Homo sapiens: one gene and its partners. The protein of the gene in region 1 purifies or fractionates together with the protein of each later gene. This does not show direct contact. Each region holds a gene or a part of one and is shown in the gene's direction. Other genes may lie near its edges.

Region 1 (7,442 bases):
TTTCCGAAGTGGAAAGAGCAAATACATATCCAAAAAGATTATGTGCAACCATATCTGTGTATATACATGTAGGGAGTCGGGGGAACAAAGAATAGGAAGAGAGTGTAAAAGGAGATAAAAGAGTTGAGTGAGGAAGAGGGATAAATGCAGGGAGATAAATATGTGATAGAATAAGAAAAAGGAAGAGAGTTTCAGACCAAGCAAAGATCTCTAACATCATTGACAAAATAGATAATGAAAAGAGAACAGTGCCATACTATCCAAAGTACTTGATCCAGGCTTTAAATGGTGGGTATACCTTAACTACTTAATAAACAATTGATTACCTATTATGTATAAGATGTAGTGTTAAAATCAAGGGGATTATAATTTACTTAAGAAGACATTTAACTGCAAAAAGGTAATAAATATGTAAGTTTAAAAGTAGAGTAATACACCAAGATAACTACTTTCTTGTTAGAACATAAAAAGAACAATTATATTTAAATTCTTGAGTACCATAGTAAAAGATTATGGAAACCATGAATAAGGTATTTAAAGAAAAAATTTTTTTCTTTAATTTAATTTTAAAATTAAAAAAAATTTTTTTTAAGTAGACAGGCCTAAAACCAAAACTTCTTTTAACTAGATAGGTCTAAAAACAATAACCTTATCTCTTGGCTTTTTTTGAAAATCAGTGCTGCTACCAGATATTTTACAGACGTTTTCATAAGGTGAATAATTCAAAAGTCCAGGGTGGCTAGGCTGAACATCCAAAATTAGCTTTTCAGACCTTGAAGGATTAGGGGCATAATCAGAATTTTCACTTGGACTAACACTAGAGAAAAAAGAAAAAACATATTTCAGTTCTTGGATAGTTTATTCACTACAAATTGCTATACATTAAATAAGAAAATAGAAAACCTGAAATGCTGCTAAGCAGATTCACAGTTATGAACATAAGGCAATGTTTCCACTAAATTTTAAATAAATCATAATTACTTTTAAACTAGCAAACTGTATTTCTAAAGCCTCTACGCTAAGATTACTTAAGATTCAAAAAAATCATAAAAAATTAGTAAAGCCCAAAATATATATTTTATACTGAGTTCTAATACACTGAAAGTGTTTTTAATATGCAAAGAGGCTTCTCTAATATTCCTTATTTTTCCCTAAACTGAAAGTTACATTAAAAAGTATAAGAAAATTATTTCTTATTCCAGAGGCAGGTTAGAAACAATACATCATAATGAAATCCACACATTTTACATTGATGTATTTAAGGCACAGTGAATTCTATATGTGATTTTACTTACTTACCTGGATAACTCTTCCCCTAAACTCTGCAAACTCCATTCTGTTATCTTCAGTTCATGTCTTAAGGAAGCAACATTTGCAAGCAAACTTTCCTCTTCATTGTCTTTATTATAGTAGTCTGATGAACTAGATTCCATTTCTTAAAAAAAAAATGAATTTCTTGTACCTTGTCTGAAAGATTCTGTAGTTTCAGTCAAAATACTCACATGAATAGAATTTAACTCATTAGTTTTCTATTTTAAATGTTGTGAAATCTTTCATGGTGGTTTAAAACAAAACAAAAAATCAATAATAATGAATTTATCTGTAGTGTAAAGCCATAAAGGAATTCAATACAATTTCAATGAATGAATTTTTCATTTTAGCCAGGGTCTAGTTATTATAGTTCTCTTTTGTAAGCATACCTGATCTTCCTAACAATTGTTAATTATTTTCATTACATGTTAAGGAAACTAAGAATCAGACATTAAATAACTTGCTCAAAGTCACACAAACTGTAAATGGTGAAATCAAGATTTGAATCCAAGTCATTAGGATGCAAAGACCATTAAATTATGTCGCATTGTAGCTTTATTACATATTACATATCAATTTCAATATGAGGTGTTTGAACTTTCATAATTACATTACAAGTACTGGACATCTGATTAAATGGTATCATTACATTCATATTTTGTTAGAAGGGAATTTATTACCAGATAAAAGCTGTCTCCTCCTCCTACGCCCAATAGTTATAAAATTTTAAAAAGACACATTTACAAGTCACAACCACAGGGATCAAAATAACATTTGGCAGGTCAACTCATAGAAATGAAGAAAAGCTTTTGTTTCTTCAGTGGATGAGTATCTCTAGGGTTGTGAAACTACTAAATTTCTTTGCATATAAAAATCACAATAAAGCATCACATTTTATTATTGTAATTAATACAATAAAAAACTAAAGCTTTATAATCTCCACTACTACAGAGCTTTCTGCGCAATCTTAAAATTACATTCCTCTTTCAGATCCCATTTACCTTTTTCACTGTAGCATCTCCTTCAACGCCCTTCTTAGCATTCTGATCCCATCCCAAGTTCCAAAAGGTTAAAAGTCCTGTGCATTACGTTCAGGACCGCAATGTACTTAGAGAAGCTCAATATTTTGAATGAATTAACGAATACTAAACTGTCCTTCCTTCCCTCATCCAGTTAGAATGGTATGTTACATTTATTCCCCACTCAAAAATTCTCAGATGTAGGGAGGAAGATTAAAAAGAAAACTCCCACCTTATGGAAAGAAAGTGGCAGGAAATTAAATGAGATACTATGTAATCTTAATAGACAAACTGGTTCTATCCTCTTTCCCTTTTTTGTTTCCACAAATTTGCTTCTGCTTAAGTGACAAGACTCTCGCAGACAAGTCAATAAATCAGGTCCCCATCCTGCTTTACCTATTCAACATCTCTAGCTCTCTGTAGGATGGTGAAGGAGAAAAGGGTAGAGAAAATTGGGCAAATTCTATAATACCATTTGGTACTATATATTTCATCTTAAATCAGGTTTTAGTTCAACATCTGTGTATTGCCATGCAAGAAATAACTCCCAGTCCGGGCGCGGTGGCTCACGCCGGTAATCCCAGCACTTTGGGAGGTCAAGGCGGGTGGATCACGAGGTCAAAAGTTAAAGACCAACCTGGCCAAGATGGTGAAACCCCGTATCTACTAAAAATACAAAAAAATTAGCCGGGGGTGGTGGCGAGCGCCTGTAATCTCAGCTACTCGGGAGGCTGAGGCAGAGAATTGCTTGAACCTGGGAGGCGGAGGTTGCAGTGAGCCGAGATCGCGCCACTGCACTCCAGCCTGGGCGACAGAGTGAGACTCGGTCTCAAAAAAAAAAGAAAGAACTCCCTAACTCTTCTGCAGTAGCAATGAATATATTTGATACTAAAATGTTTTCATTTTCCTAGTGGGACATTTACTGTCAAATGAATGTCCTTAACTTCAATTTACAGTAGTTACCCAAAAAAGGCTATCTTCACTGACTATGCATACCTAGAAAAGCACATCATCCTACTCACCGACCTTAACAACATCATCTTTCGGCCCTAATTAACAATGTGTTTGTAGGTTTGCACACGCACACCCATCAAACGAAGGACAAGTGTTCTTTTATACCCTATGTATGTGATACAATGGGCTGTAGTCGAAAAAGATTCCTCATTTTGGAAAGAAGTCATAACTTTATGTAGTAGTCTCCTGTCTCAAGATCGCTTGACACAGCTAATCTTACATCCGTCTGAAAGAAGCGGGGGCGGGGGTGGGGGACGGAAGTGACAGTTTCCTCTTTTTTTTTTTTTTTTTAATTTTATAGAGACAGTGGCTCGCCATATTGCCAAGGCTGGCCTCGAACTCCTGGGCTCAAGCAATCCTTCCGCCTCGACATCCCAAAGTGCTGAGGTAACAGGCGTAAGCCACTGCGCCCGGCCTCCTATTTTTCATCAAATAAAATACAACCGTTCAGAGCAGCATGCTCAGCAACCACGAGGACCAGTCCCAGCGCATCCAAGGTGCCGGGAGGGAAAGGAACAGAACTCCCCCAGGTAAGCCGGTTTCCCCACGCCAAGGCGCAGTCGCTCACCACCCAAATCGTCGCTGGGGAGAGACCCACCCGGCGACTGCGCGCTTCGCACTCGAGTCTGCGTTAGGAAGCCTCTGACCCTTTCCCGGGCCCCTGCGCGTGGAAGCCTCGGACACAACTCGGAGAACCAGCGAACCCCGGCAGCACAGAATTCGAACCGCCGCGGGAGCCGTTGGGACGCGCCTACCCGGTCACTGCCCCGCCCCGGCGCAGACTGCGTGAGGCGCCGCCGAAGGCGCGGGGCTTGCCGGGGATCGTGGTCGGCGAGCGCGCCCGAGCCCACTAGCGGAGCCCGCCCGGGACTACATTTCCCACAATTACCGCCATGATGCCCATTGGTGGGGGAAGCCATGGGAACCGGAGGCCGTCAGGGGGAGAGGCGGGCGGCGCTCACGCCTGGCCTGAGGGGGCCGAGACTGAGGCGGTTGCGGAATAGGACTGCTAGCCCCGCCCAGAGTCCCTACCCTTTGGAGAACTGCGCTTCTCTTTCGGAGGGAGTGTTCGCCGCCGCCGCGGCCGCCACCTGGAGTTTCTTCAGACTCCAGATTTCCCTGTCAACCACGAGGAGTCCAGAGAGGAAACGCGGAGCGGAGACAACAGTACCTGACGCCTCTTTCAGCCCGGGATCGCCCCAGCAGGGATGGGCGACAAGATCTGGCTGCCCTTCCCCGTGCTCCTTCTGGCCGCTCTGCCTCCGGTGCTGCTGCCTGGGGCGGCCGGCTTCACACCTTCCCTCGATAGCGACTTCACCTTTACCCTTCCCGCCGGCCAGAAGGAGTGCTTCTACCAGCCCATGCCCCTGAAGGCCTCGCTGGAGATCGAGTACCAAGTAAGTGCGGAGGATAAACCAGCCTCCTTCCTTTAACCCAGCTGCACTGCGTTGTCGCCTCTCACCCGTTTAGAAACTTCTGGTGGACGGCCCTGGTGGTGAAGAGGCGAGGGCCGTTCAGGAAGCCAGCCCGCTCCGCGCAGGCGCGCGAGGCGAGGCGAGGCTCTCGCTGGGGCCGGGGACCCAGAACTTAGGCTGGACCTGGAATTGATGACTACCCGCCTTCTCCCCTTTCCTCCGGTGGGAAGGAGGCCAGAACTGGTGATGTCGCTGGCTTTTCTCTTTGTTTCCTAATTCGCCCACTGCTTTTCTTAGCCACTACACGCTCTCATACTGAGAATTTCACAATGCAGAACTGATACACGTTCTCCTTCATCATTGGACAAGGTGATGACACTTGTTTGAATCACCCCCACCCCTTTCACACAGTTCAGATGTTACAAATCACTGTCTTTGCTTCAGTTAAGGGTTTTTGGATTATGATCGTGTAATTGGCATTAAGCCCGATTTTGAAATTTTTTGGAAGACGCTGTTGCTATATTTAATGATACATTTCCGTTTAAGTTATATATCCATTATTTTCAAAAGATCAAATCGTATATTAAAACTTTATAACCTTTCTTTTCATTTTTTCATTGAGCATTGTAAGCATTTCCCTCGTGTCATTGTTTTTTTTTTTTTTTTTTGAGACGGAGTCTCGCTTTGTTGCTCAAGCTAGAGTTGGAGTGCAGTGGCGCTATCTCGGCTCATTGCAACCTCCGCCTCCCGGGTTCAAGCGATTCTCCTGCCTCAGCCTTCCGAGTAGCTGAGATTACAGACGTGCGCCACCATGCCCAGCTAATTTTTGTATTTTTAGTAGAGACGGGGTTTCACCATGTTGGCCAGGCTGGTCTCGAACTCCCGACCTCAGGCGATCCACCCGCCTCGGCCTCCCAAAGTGCTGGGATTACAGGCGTGAGCCACCATGCCTAGCATGTTTTCTTTTTAGTATCTGCATAATATTCTTGCTGGGAATTACCTTATTTTATGTAGTCATGGTGGTAGGGGGTAATTTCTTAGAAGAAATCTTGTTCGTTCCACAGCAAATTCCGATGTTTTCAGGTAGCAGTACAGGGGGGAAAGAAAAGGCATTGATGTGTTTCATCTTTCAGTTTTTTAGAAGTTAATTATAATCATCAAATGTTAATTTTTTAAGTTGATGTAGAGAATTGTTTTTAAATACCAGGTACTGTCACATACAGAGCAAAATAAAAAGTTGTAGAATTTTTTATACGATGGAACTTTAGGATTAAGTTGTATATAGATACACACGATAAGCACAGAGAATAAAATATCTAAAATCACATAGTGAGCAAAACTGAGGCTAAAACTCAGTGTTTCTTGATTTCCAGTAAAGTTCAAAAGTTCAACATTTACTGAACAGTTAACACGTGCCAGGAATTGTGCATGGAGGTGGGGGAGACGGAGGGGGAGCTGGGTTGTGCGGGATGTAGGTAAAAGAGAAAGAAAGAATCCCTCTTCTCAAAGAGCTTAATAAAGGTTACTGGCTCATAAACAGGTAATTTCAATAAAGGATGGCTAAGTACCAGTAGAGGAGGGTCACTTCTAAGGGTTTCAGAAGAGGATTCCTGGAGAAAATAAAATTTAATCCAGAAAGATGCTTAATTGAGACGAAAATGCCAGGAACAAGGGGCATTTCAGAAAAGCGAACAAAAAGATCCATAGTTCTTAAAATACATAGTGTAAGTGGGGATGGTTAGTGTGTAGTGGACACTACAAGTACTGAGTTTGTATTAGACTTTAAGACATATAAAGTCTAGGGTGGGAGTAGCAGAAAAGGACATCGGAGAGGCCAGAAGGCTGGGGTCATTAAGCATGAATCATAGCCTTGTTTGCCGTGCTGAGTAGGTTTTCCTTAATTTTGTACAAGTCCATTTAAGATTTAAGCAGATCACTGGATGCAGTGTGGAAAATGGATTTAAGGAGAGCAAAATTAGAGTCAAGGAAACTAACTAGAGGGCTAGTGAAATAGTCTAGATAAGAAAACAATTTGTATTAATAAAAAAATCTTCAGTATTTACACACATATTAGGGAAGATATCTATTTTAACTACTGTCCTCTTATAGTTAAGAGCACCAGCTCTTAACCTTAGCCTGGGTTCAAATCTTGACTCTGCCTACTTAAAACTTATGTGATCTTCTCACTTGTAAAATAGAGATAATAATTGTAACTACATCATAGAGTTGATTTGAAAAAGCATGAGTTAATAAATGCTCATATTCAGTGTAAAGTAGTCTATTAAAAAATGCTCATAGATCATCCCTGACACATAGTAAATAATCAATGAATGTTAATTTTACATTTATACCTCTATAGTTATGTAGCTGGCTTGGTTTAGCTTTATTCTTTACATCTTTAGTCACTCTTAAAGGGACTGTTCCTTTTTTTTTTTTTTTTTTTTTTTTTTTGAGACAGAGTCTCCCTCTGTCACTCTGTTACCCAGGCTGGAGTGCAGTGGCGCGACCTTGGCCCACAGCAACCTTCATCTCCCGAGTTCAAGTGATTCTCCCGCCTCAGCTTCCCGAGTAGCTGGATTACAGGCATGTGCCACCACACCCAGCTAATTTTTGTATTTTTAGTAGAGACGGGGTTTCACTATGTTGGCCAGACTGGTCCCAAACTCCTGATCTCAAGTGATCT
Region 2 (7,123 bases), on another chromosome or scaffold:
CTCTTTATGGCATTGAGGAATCTGCCTAGGAATATTATTGCACAGATTTTGGGGTGACAGCTCTCTCCAGCCATATTGAGTTCTGGAGATTATAGTCATTTGTTAGTACCATGAACTTTGACCCTGAGGTACTGCCTTCTCCCTCTTATGTACCCAGAATAGCCTATGTAATTAGATTGCTTATGGACTTCTGCTTCATGGTTTTTCAGTTAATGTACTGGGCACCATTTAAAAAAACAAAACAGAACAAAACAAAAAAACCTTTCTGCTACTCCTCCAGAATTGTTTTCTGTCTTGGTCAAAAAAAAATTATGCTTTTTCCAACTTTGAAGGCACACAAAGTGCTATTGTTGCTGTTGCTGAAACAAAGGTCTTCCATAGGAAAATTAGATCCTGAAAACTCAGAACATTTCACCTCAGCACTGCTTACAGTACTGCAGGATGATGCTTATCCTCGCCTCTGTTTCAGTTCTCTCAGCTACTGGAAGAGAAAAACACCCTTTCCATTCAGCTCTGCGATACCAGTCAGAGTCTTCGTGAGAACCAGCAGCACTATGGTGACCTTTTAAATCACTGTGCAGTCTTGGAGAAGCAGGTTCAAGAGCTGCAGGCGGTGAGTAAAGAGAAGGTGAGAGACTGGGAGAAGTGTGATGAAATTTAGTGCAAGTGGTGAAGCACTACAGAGCAGTATGGAAGAAGTTAATGTAATTAGGGGTCAGGGAAGAAAGTGGGAGAGAAGAAAGAGTTAATTGAGATGGGAATAAGGTCTGAGAAAAATTACAGTGAAGCAATTAGAAGAAAAAAGATCAGTGAGATGGTGGGAGAGAAATCAAAACATGAGTAGGAAACAGTGATGACTGAGACATTTGGTACTCTGAAACAGAGAAAGTGTTGATTTTGCTTTAAGTTATAAGAAAATTGTAGGAAACTTTGGATCTGAGAACAAAACAGGCAGCACTGTTGACAGCCAGGGAGAGGAGTACAGCATTGAAGTTGGAGGAGACTGAGAATTAGTATGGAGACGTATAGGATACGGAGGAGGAAAAGGGGGTTGGGAGGGGCTGGACAAGCAAGGGAAGGATCAAAGTGGCTTCTGGAAAAGCCATAAGCATCCACAGCAGACTTAACTTTTTTTTTTTTTTTTTTTTTTTTGAGACGGAGTCTCGCTCTGTCGCCCAGGCTGGAATGCAGTAGCACGATCTCGGCTCACTGCAACCTCCACCTCCTGGGTTCAAGCAATTCTCTGCCTCAGCCTCCCGAGTTGCTGGGATTACAGGCGCCTGCCACCACACCCGGCTAATTTTTTGTATTTTTAGTGGAGACAGGGTTTCACCATCTTGGCCAGGCTGGTCTTGAACTCCTGATCTTGTGATCCACCCACCTCGGCCTCCCAAAGTGCTGGGATTACAGGCTTGAGCCACGGCGCCCGGCCCAGACTTAACTTTTAAGAGGAGAAATTCAAGAATGAGAATCTGGGAGAAAAATCTAATCAAGACAAGAGTTTTATGTAGGTGAGTAATCTGCTAGAGCAGAAGCTTCTCACTTCTAAATTTGGACTTGAGAATTATAAGCGGGGATAGTCCTCTGTAAACGAGCTCTCATTTTGCTCAAATACACTTTCTTAAGAGCTTTCATCACTGAATTACTAAGCTTATTCTTCTTCCAGGGGCCACTAAATATAGATGTTGCTCCAGGAGCTCCCCAGGAAAAGAATGGAGTTCACAGAAAGAGTGACCCTGAGGAACTAAGGGAACCGCAGCAAAGGTAGGGGAGTGGCTCTCTAAACCCTGGAGCATACACCAGAGTCCAGAAATTGGGCAGTAATCTAGATTTAACTGGAGTCCTTTATATGGATTTAATATGTCTTGTTATCTTATTAGCCTCACAGAAGTGATGTGAGGATCAAATAGTAACAATAATAACTAACATTTGTGTGTGAAAAGTTTGTAAAACAAAAAGAGCAACACCAACACACACACACCACTAACAACTACTCTATGATAGTAAAATGAAAGATAATCAGTTCCTGAAATTTCTTTAGGTATTTTCTGCAGCTTCATTTAATCCCTCTACAGCTTTGCTTTTAAAATATTGTGTTTAGACAAGCTTCTATGGATTTTCTTGCTTTACAACCTTATGAAGACTTTGAATCCCTTGTATTAGCAACTGTTTTCTGCATCTGATGATGCTTTTTGTTTTCCTCTCATCCTAAAGCTTTTCTGAAGCTCAGCAGCAGCTATGCAACACCAGACAGGAAGTGAATGAATTAAGGAAGCTGCTGGAAGAAGAACGAGACCAAAGAGTGGCTGCTGAGAATGCTCTCTCTGTGGCCGAGGAGCAGATCAGACGGTAAAGGCTGAAGGAGATAGCCTCTGTTCCCTTCCGATCCTTTCTGATCAAACTCATGTACATTTCCTGCCAGACTTAGGATTTCTTAAGATCTTTTTCTCATCTTGAGGTAGTTGCTGCAATGAGTTTACCAACATTGTGGTCACCCAAGAGAACACTGTACTTTTGGAGTATAAGAGAGTCAGTGTTTTCTAAAACAGTTGTTCTTAGAGAATAATAATGATATCTACCATTACTGAAAGATATTTTATTTCACCCTAACCATAACTATATGAGGTAGGTGTTGGGTTCTCTAGAGGACCAAATAAGTGACAACCTCATTTTCTACCTGAGATCTGAATCCATGGAAATCTTTTTTAAAAGATTAAAAGATTGAGAGATTAAAAGACTGCTTTATAAATGATGTTAAAAGAATGTAGCTTTTTATTTGTTGGCAAATGCACTTCCTAACCCTGAACTTCCCCTCCCAGTCACAGACAATGTTGGGCCAAGGTAGACCTCCTTCACAGAAAATCCTGCTCTTGCCAAACAAGAGTATTGGAATAACAGAGTGAACTGTGCTTCCTATGAGCAGTTTGCTCCAAGTGTAATTTGGAAGGGCAGAGCTACACATCCCTAGTTCCTTATTCTCATCAAAAGAATCACTATGCATGAGAGGATAGAGAGTTGCTACAAGTATTTTGCTGCTGGAAGTCCCTTTCCACGGAAAATATCGTTAAAAGCAGGCACTTTTATTATATTTTGGGAGAAAGCCACCTATGTATATGATCACTTTCCTCAGAGAATGACATTTCTGATATTAATGCTTTCTTGTAAAGTTTATGTGGCAGAGGTGACAGCCCCATTGAGCAGGTCTTACTTGAGATACCTTTCTTTCCAATCCAACATATTCACAACTTCTTAATTTTCATCACCTATTCAGGCCTTGATATGCAGCTTTGAGGGTGGGCCAGCTTTGCTTAATGCCTTGTGTGGTGTCTTGCCATCTCTGCCGAGCATTTTCAGGCCTGTGCCCTCATGACTGTTTCTCTTCTACTTGCTATTGAATTGTTTAGACCGGTGAAACCTGGCCAATGGGGAGGTTGATCTCCCTCTTGTGTAACTAACCTGTCCCAAACCAACTGAGACTGCATGTGTGGGATGATGACTCTTGAGCCTGTGGGCAAGCCGTATTAATTCAAGCCACAATTCCCTCTTTAGCTCTGATGCAGAATGGAAGTTGGGGTAGCTAATTAAGGGCTGCCTGCCTAGTCCAGGTACTGCCATTGTAATGTTAGAATCTCACATGTACTCTAAAGAGCAGGTGGAACTCAGTGGCCCTCCAGTTTAAAGGCAGCCAGTACCATCTTCCTCATCAATACCTACAGACTTCTCATCCTTCCTCAGCATAGCCTACATTGACAGACTGACCTCCATAGTAACAGACCATGCTGTTCCAGATCAAAGCTGCTTCTGAAAAGCTTATCACATGGAGGAATAGACACAGAAGGTGTATTTTTTAGTCAGCCTGGCTCTCAGGAGGGAAGCAGGAAAGAAGGAGCTAGGCTGTGCATGCTCAGTTCTCTTTCTAGACTCACAAATTGGATTAAGGTGTTTCTTCTCTCCCGGGGAAAAGAATGTGTCCTGCAGAGAGCCCAAGAATATTAAACTAATAGATATCCTTTCAGAAGGAGAAAACACAAAGAGTAGAGGCAAGAGTTTCATCCTCTCTTCCCTATTGAAAAAGTTCATCCCTATAGGCAAATGCTTGATCAAACGTGCTGTGTTACATGCAGCTCCTTTGTTTGTTTGACATAACCATTGAGTGAGTAATGGCAGCTTCTTCATTAAATGGAGAAGTTCCAGTATTAAATAAGCAAATCAGCAAAAACTGAGCCAGAAGGCAGTGGAGACTGCCAATTCAATTTAATTTTTTTTAGTTCAATTTAATTTTTAAAACCCCACAGAAATCTTCTTTGGATGCTTTTGCCTATTAGCCTTTAATAAAAGAAAAAAATGTAATGAGTTTCTCCAAGTCAGGTGTGGTGTGGTGGAAAAAAGAACGTGAGGCTTGAAAGACAAAGTTGGGTATTGAATTCTGGCTCTGCCGCTTACTGGCTGTGCCGCCATGGGCAAGTAATTTAACCTCTGTAAGCCTTAGCACTTTGAAGATAATAAGACCAACCTCAGAACCTGAGGATTAAATGTATGTAAAGCACCCAGCCTAGAGCCTGATACATAGTGAGTAGGCAGTCAATTCCTGATAGTTATTGTCACATTTTGCTGCTGCTGAAGGAAACGTATCTGCTGGTACCCCCCTTGCATGGGTTTGGGTTTATGGGAGCAGCTTTTGCTGCAAGTCTCCTCCTGTGCTGCATTGTGTGGCAGGATGACTGGGAAGACTGGGCCTGATCAGCCTCTCATGCTATGAACCAATGCTATGCCTCTTTTTTTTCTCAACTCAGGTTAGAGCACAGTGAATGGGACTCTTCCCGGACTCCTATCATTGGCTCCTGTGGCACTCAGGAGCAGGCACTGTTAATAGATCTTACAAGCAACAGTTGTCGAAGGGTAAGAGGAAGAAGGATAAAGAGAGGGTGTTTTATTATCTGACAGGGCTGGCTATACTGGGGGCAAGGAGCTGAGGAGAAGGAATGTGGAAGTCCAGCCACTGAGCAGCGAATGAGTCTAAGGCTGGAAGGGCGTGGAAGATTAGAACCTGGTGGAATTTGCCAAGTTGTTGACTCTGAGGCAACTTTCCTCTCAGAATACCCCTTTCTACAGTGGTTGGGTCAGCTTTGCTTAAGTGCAAGACTAGTAGGAGGGAAAGCAACATAGCCCTATAGGGTGAAAACTCTCTGACTTTCACATTTTTCTTTCAGACCCGGAGTGGCGTTGGATGGAAGCGAGTCCTGCGTTCACTCTGTCATTCACGGACCCGAGTGCCACTTCTAGCAGCCATCTACTTTCTAATGATTCATGTCCTGCTCATTCTGTGTTTTACGGGCCATCTATAGACTTAGTTGTTACTCTTTGGACCACTCCCCTCAAAACTTGGAATTCTCTCACCTCTAACATCAGAACATCAATTCCAGTGGAACAGTCTTCCCATTTACAGGTCTTCTCTCCAACTCTTCACGGAAAGTGCCTGCAAAAACAGAGGTGGATACGAGGACAGGTTGGAGCTGCAGGGACTGGCGAGTCTGCTTTCTTCTACTGCCCTGAGCCTGAACGCTTCTGCTTAATCTGAGAATCACATTTGGTTTGTTGAGCCTAATATTTGTTGAGATTTTGCAGGACCCTGATCTTTTGTGGTCCTGTAAAAGATACTGAGGAATGTCTTTCAGCCAAGCCAAGAGGATGGTTTCAATAAACCTAATAATCTGAAGTTCAGTATCATTTTGATTGATAACTTTCTTTGCCTTGTTTGCCTGTATTTTCTCCTGTTTCAGGGGGAAGGTGGCTCTGCCATAAACAGAGTTCAGGGAAATGAACATGTCACCTCATAGGACATCTGATTTAGGTCTCTTGCAGAATAGGGTGGTGAAAGCTGAAGGAACTCCCTAGGGGTTTTAGCTGTTAGATCACATGGGAGGACAGCATCTTCTTCCCTGCCAATTTCAGATATAATTGGAGGGAGAATTTCAGGTCTTAGACTATAAGGATAGAATCCCTTTGCTTTTGCCCTTGATCACATGTATACTAAGGTATTAAGTGGCCCAAGTCTTTCCTTTCACCAAAGGGCAGGGAGAAGTGTCTATGGACAGCAGGGTTCCAATTCTTGTCATTCCAGGAATATCTGAATATTCCTGGAATGTGGACCCTGAGACAGTGCTCAGGGGCCACTGGGAGCCAATATTAGGCATTGACTCTCAGCCAGGAGTCTGACTGGTCTAACACCACACTGCAACTCCTGACCTCTTGAAGTACTAAGCTACTTTGCTGTTAGTGACAGTTATTACAGTTTCTCAGCCCCATTGTCTCTGCCCTCTGTGGCAATGGAAGGAGAATATAGAGAAGACAAAATTAAATATAGATAGACCTGAGAAGGACAGCCAGGATAGAATTCCATTTGTGCCTATTCCCTGCCTCCCCTCCCCTCCCCCATCCTACCAGTTGGTTATTTTCTCATTGCATACGTGATGTGTTCACTGCCTAGCCTCTCCCTAAAGAAGAGAGAAGACAAGTGGGCTGACTGATCTGCTCTAAATCTACTGTGGTGATTAAATCTTGGTTACAACATCCTGGGAAGTTTCCTGAACAACTGTAAAATAATAAAATTATTTTCAGAATGAAGAGTTTGTGTGTATGTGTGTGTACGTGTGAGTGAATGGATATGTGCACAGGTGTTTCGGTACCTGTGTTTGCATGCTGGGGGGTGGAAGGTGGGTAAGGGAAGTAGGGAAAGGAGGTAGCCAGGAATGGTTATAGGGGTAGAAAGCTCTACATATTCAGGCTTTCTTCTCACTGGCCAATATCAGTGACAGCTGCATGCATTTTTCCAGCCTTAGCTGCTAGACCCCAGGTGATGAATGCAGTGAGGAAATTCTATCCTAATACTGAACCAAATAAGCTGGGCCTTAGGGCATGAAATTGATGCAGGTCCATGCATGGTCCTGGGAGAACTCTTGTCTGGCACATAGTGAAAACATTAGGCCCCTAGGGATCCCTCTGGGTGGGAATGGGAGAAGAGAAGCTTAATAGCATGTAGCAGGTTAGATAGGCATTATTATGTTTTGTTTTGTTTTGTTGGGTTTTTTTTGAGACCGAGTTTCACTCTTTCGCTCAGGCTGGA
Region 3 (3,875 bases), about 110 Mb from region 1:
CTGATTTCTTTTGAAAACAGTAATTACTATTGTATTTTGGTCTTGCTTATAGAAATAGAGTTAAGCACTGGTGAGGAAATTAAACTCTCTTTCTTAAAGAGAAGATTCTGGCAATTAAAATCATATTGACTGAGCCTTACTGCCATTGAGCCTGTTAATGTATTATTTTAAATATTAACTTTATTTATACAGAAAAGTTTCAGAAGGCAAGTACAAGAAGAAAACTTTGAATACCAAGATTTCAAGAGGATGGTTAATCGTGCTCCAGAATTCTTAAAGTTAAAACATTGCTTAGAGAAAGCTATTGAAATTATTATTTCTGCACTGAAAGGTATGATTCTCCAAATGGAGTTTATAATCAGAATTTTATATTTTAAGGAACCTTAGACATCTTTCCTTTTTTTTTTTGAGATGGAGTCTCGCTCTGTCACTCAGGCTGGAGTGCAGTGGCTCGATTTCAGCTCACTGCAACCTCCGACTCCTGGGTTCAAGCGATTCTCCTGCCTCAGCCTCCCAAGTAGCTGGGATTACAGGCATATGCCACCATGCCTGGATAATTTTTGTATTTTTAGTAGAGATGGGGTTTCACCATGTTGGCCAGGCTGGTCTCGAACTCCTGACCTCAAACAATTCACCCACCTTGGCCTCCCAAAGTGCTGGGATTACAGGCATGAGCCACAGTCCCCGGCTGACATCTTTCCTTTTTATTTCTAACCTTTTCATTATTTTAGTCATTAACTGAAGCCTACCCAATGCTACTTCACTGATATTAGTTACCCATATAGGAACTTGTATTTATAATTAAATTCCCACTTAATGTATGTATCAGTACTTCTACCTAAATAATTAGATCCTGAAAAACCAAGTGCTCATCTAGCAAATAAACACTTTAGTTGACTAATCTTAAGTAGTTTGGAATTGTTTTGATAGGGTCACTTTGACTTAAAAGATATCTAGAGTCTATAAAAGTCATAAATACCTGATGAAAACTGAAAAGGCTAATTAACTTTTCCCTCCTCTCTTGCATATAGGATGCCATAGTGATATAAATCTTCTCCAGACTTGTGTTGAAAGTATTCGCAACTTGGCCAGTGATTTTTACAGTGACTTCAGTGTGCCTTCTACTTCTGTTGGCAGCTATGAGAGTAGAGTAACTCACATTGTCCACCAGGAACTAGAATCTCTAGCTAAGTCTCTCCTCTTTTGTTTTGAATCTGAAGAAAGCCCTGATTTGTTGAAACCCTGGGAAACTTATAATCAAAATACCAAAGAAGAACACCAACAATCTAAATCAAGCGGGATTGACGGCAGTAAGAATAAAGGTGTACCAAAGCGTGTCTATGAGCTCCATGGCTCATCCCCAGCAGTGAGCTCAGAGGAATGCACACCCAGTAGGATTCAGTGGGTGTGAATACTGATGTGTAGGCACTTTTATGACCACCCATGAAAGAAAAAGAACACTTGCTCGGTAATTTTCTTTATGCAGGAGAGTTTAAGAGAAATCAGCACAGATATTTCAAAAAAGTCCATGTCTTTTTATCTTTAAAATATCTATTTATCAAAGGCCAGACACAGTGGCTCACGCCTGTAATCCCAGCACTTTGGGAGGCGGGCAGATCACAAGGTCAGGAGTTTGAGACCGGCCTGGCCAACATGGCGAAACCCCGTCTCTACTAAAAATACAAAAATTTGCTGGGCATGGTGGCGCGTGCCTGTAATCCCAGCTACTAGGGGGGCTGAGGCAGGAGGATCGCTTGAACCTGAGAGGCAGAGGTTGCAGTGAGCCAAGATCATGCCACTTTACTCCAGTCTGAGCAACAGAACGAGACTTAGTCAAAATAAATAAATAAATAAATAAATAAATAAATAAATAAATAAATAAAATATATTTTTATCTTTAAAGTGTTTAACATTGGTATACTGTCTGTAGTTGGTTCATTAGTCGTTTATAAAGGGTTATTTTCTCATGAGTGGAAACCTGAACAATCAGTTACCTTTGTGCCTATGCCTTCTCTCTCCTCAGACAGCTGGGATGTTTATGGTGAAATGGCCTGTACAAGTTTAACTAAGACAACTTAACTTGCATTGTTAATCAAAAATTCTTTTCTCAAAGGGTTAACTGGTTGCCATTTTGAATAGTATGTTCAAGGGTGTAGCTTCCTGTTTCTTTCCAAATTATAAGTAGCTACCTAAATATAGTATAATTATATATTAATAATATGGCTTGCTGGCACAGTAGTTTACCCTGTTATCTGTGTTTCATAATGGGGGCTGTATGAATATTATTTAAAACTAATAAAATGTTGCCAGAATTATACTAAACTGTTGGATGAGATTAGGAGATCAGAGGCTGGACCTTCTCTTGATAATGCTTGTTTTGTTAAAGGTATAATGAAATAATTTGTATATGATTTGATGAAGATTAAAGACCCTTATTTTCCACAGCTTTAAAAAAAAACCTTTATTTATGATCAAGTAATAAAGATAATATTCTACTTGTGGGATCTTACATTACGGAAATAGTTTGACGTTTTTGACCTCAAGAGTATGTATAATTTGAAGAGATACTTTGTAACTATGCTTGGGTGATATTGAGCAGTTCCTAAAGAATAATTCATTTAAAAAAAAAGAAGAAAAAAAAAGAAGAATTCATTTAAATAACCTGATCCTTTCATTTGCCCTTTTCGAATTTACAGATACTACTTGTACATTTGGCATAACTAGTTGAAATTGGCCATTCGTACCATGAATAAATCTGATAGTTTCCTTGTTAGGAAGAGATTGTAAGTAAATACAGTCATTGCAGTCAGAACAGTATTAGTGAACCTTGTGTGGTGTTTTCAAGCTCTTTAAAATGGTACAATGTAGCACATTTGCTTTCATTTCTTTTTTTATTTTTGGCATTTGACCTTGTATTCTTTCTGAAGCTCTATATGTGTTTTTATTAGTCAATAATCTGGCAAGTAGCACTTTGCCTGTGCAGTTTGCTGGAGTGTAGATGTACATATGAGGATTTCCCGGGAGGTGCACTTCTTTGAAGAACTTCCTAAAGTACCTGTATAGTAGTTTTCATCTTAATATTCAGTATTTAATCTTCAGTTTGTGCTTTGTAAACTCATGACTTAATTGGTCAGAAACTTTTTAGTGTCTTTATAAAATTTTGTATACATATTTATACTAAACACATTGTGATACTGTATTTGAATGAATGGTGAAAAAATATTTGCTATTGGAATTATGTGCACTGACAAGAAATGTTATAAAGAGAATGCCTTTAATAAATCTTTTCAGCATTAGAATTGCTTCGTGGTCTATGCTTTTTTATTTTACTGATTTTCTTTGTTTATTTTACTCTTCATTCAGAATAGCTCTGCCTTGATAATAGCTAGGCTAGTGTTGCAAATCAAGTTAATAATTAGGAAACACTAAACAAATATTAATATTGCCATAACAACTATTTTTTTTTAACATTGTTCTGCCTCTCTTTAGTTGATTATGCCTGGAATAGATTTATCACCATGTGGTATGTGTAAAGAGCATGAGCTTTGGAGTTTGACATATTTTTCACACGTTTGGAGTGTGAATCCCAGCTGGACTGCTTAGTAACTACATGACCTTAGACATGTTACTGTCTTCACTCCCATTCCTTCATCTGCAGAAAGAAAAGTAATACCCACCTCATGGACTATCTATCTATGAGCACTTAGTGAGAAAAATGTGGGAATAACTGCTGGCAAGTAGTAGACTGTTAGTGAATTTATTTTCTGTCCTTTTCATTACCAGCTACAAAACCCTTGTTATGTATATAAGATCACACTTGGTGCAGGCATATGCCATTTATAACATTCTGCCAATGTGCCAAATTGTATTGCAGT

What was found.
Region 2: the proteins of TMED5 (region 1) and GOLGB1 purify together in Homo sapiens (co-immunoprecipitation; 2 studies listed by BioGRID and IntAct, with this or other methods). This does not show direct contact.
Region 3: the proteins of TMED5 (region 1) and KIF14 purify together in Homo sapiens (co-immunoprecipitation; 2 studies listed by BioGRID and IntAct, with this or other methods). This does not show direct contact.

The regions. Positions count from the first base shown.
Region 1 is NC_000001.11:93,177,353-93,184,794, reverse strand, and holds the start of TMED5 (transmembrane emp24 domain-containing protein 5 isoform 1 precursor), read left to right. Parts: upstream 1-4,381; 5' UTR 4,382-4,552; coding exon 4,553-4,741; intron 4,742-4,806; exon of another isoform or gene 4,807-4,882; intron 4,883-7,442. Other genes in the region: CCDC18 (coiled-coil domain-containing protein 18), read right to left, coding at 649-817, 1,300-1,433. UniProt on the Homo sapiens protein: Potential role in vesicular protein trafficking, mainly in the early secretory pathway. Required for the maintenance of the Golgi apparatus; involved in protein exchange between Golgi stacks during assembly.
Region 2 is NC_000003.12:121,662,702-121,669,824, reverse strand, and holds the end of GOLGB1 (golgin subfamily B member 1), read left to right. Parts: intron 1-469; coding exon 470-613; coding exon of another isoform or gene 614-628; intron 629-1,666; coding exon 1,667-1,764; intron 1,765-2,214; coding exon 2,215-2,349; intron 2,350-4,793; coding exon 4,794-4,899; intron 4,900-5,210; coding exon 5,211-5,345; 3' UTR 5,346-6,624; downstream 6,625-7,123. UniProt on the Homo sapiens protein: May participate in forming intercisternal cross-bridges of the Golgi complex.
Region 3 is NC_000001.11:200,550,924-200,554,798, reverse strand, and holds the end of KIF14 (kinesin-like protein KIF14), read left to right. Parts: intron 1-192; coding exon 193-331; intron 332-1,031; coding exon 1,032-1,411; 3' UTR 1,412-3,299; downstream 3,300-3,875. UniProt on the Homo sapiens protein: Microtubule motor protein that binds to microtubules with high affinity through each tubulin heterodimer and has an ATPase activity. Plays a role in many processes like cell division, cytokinesis and also in cell proliferation and apoptosis.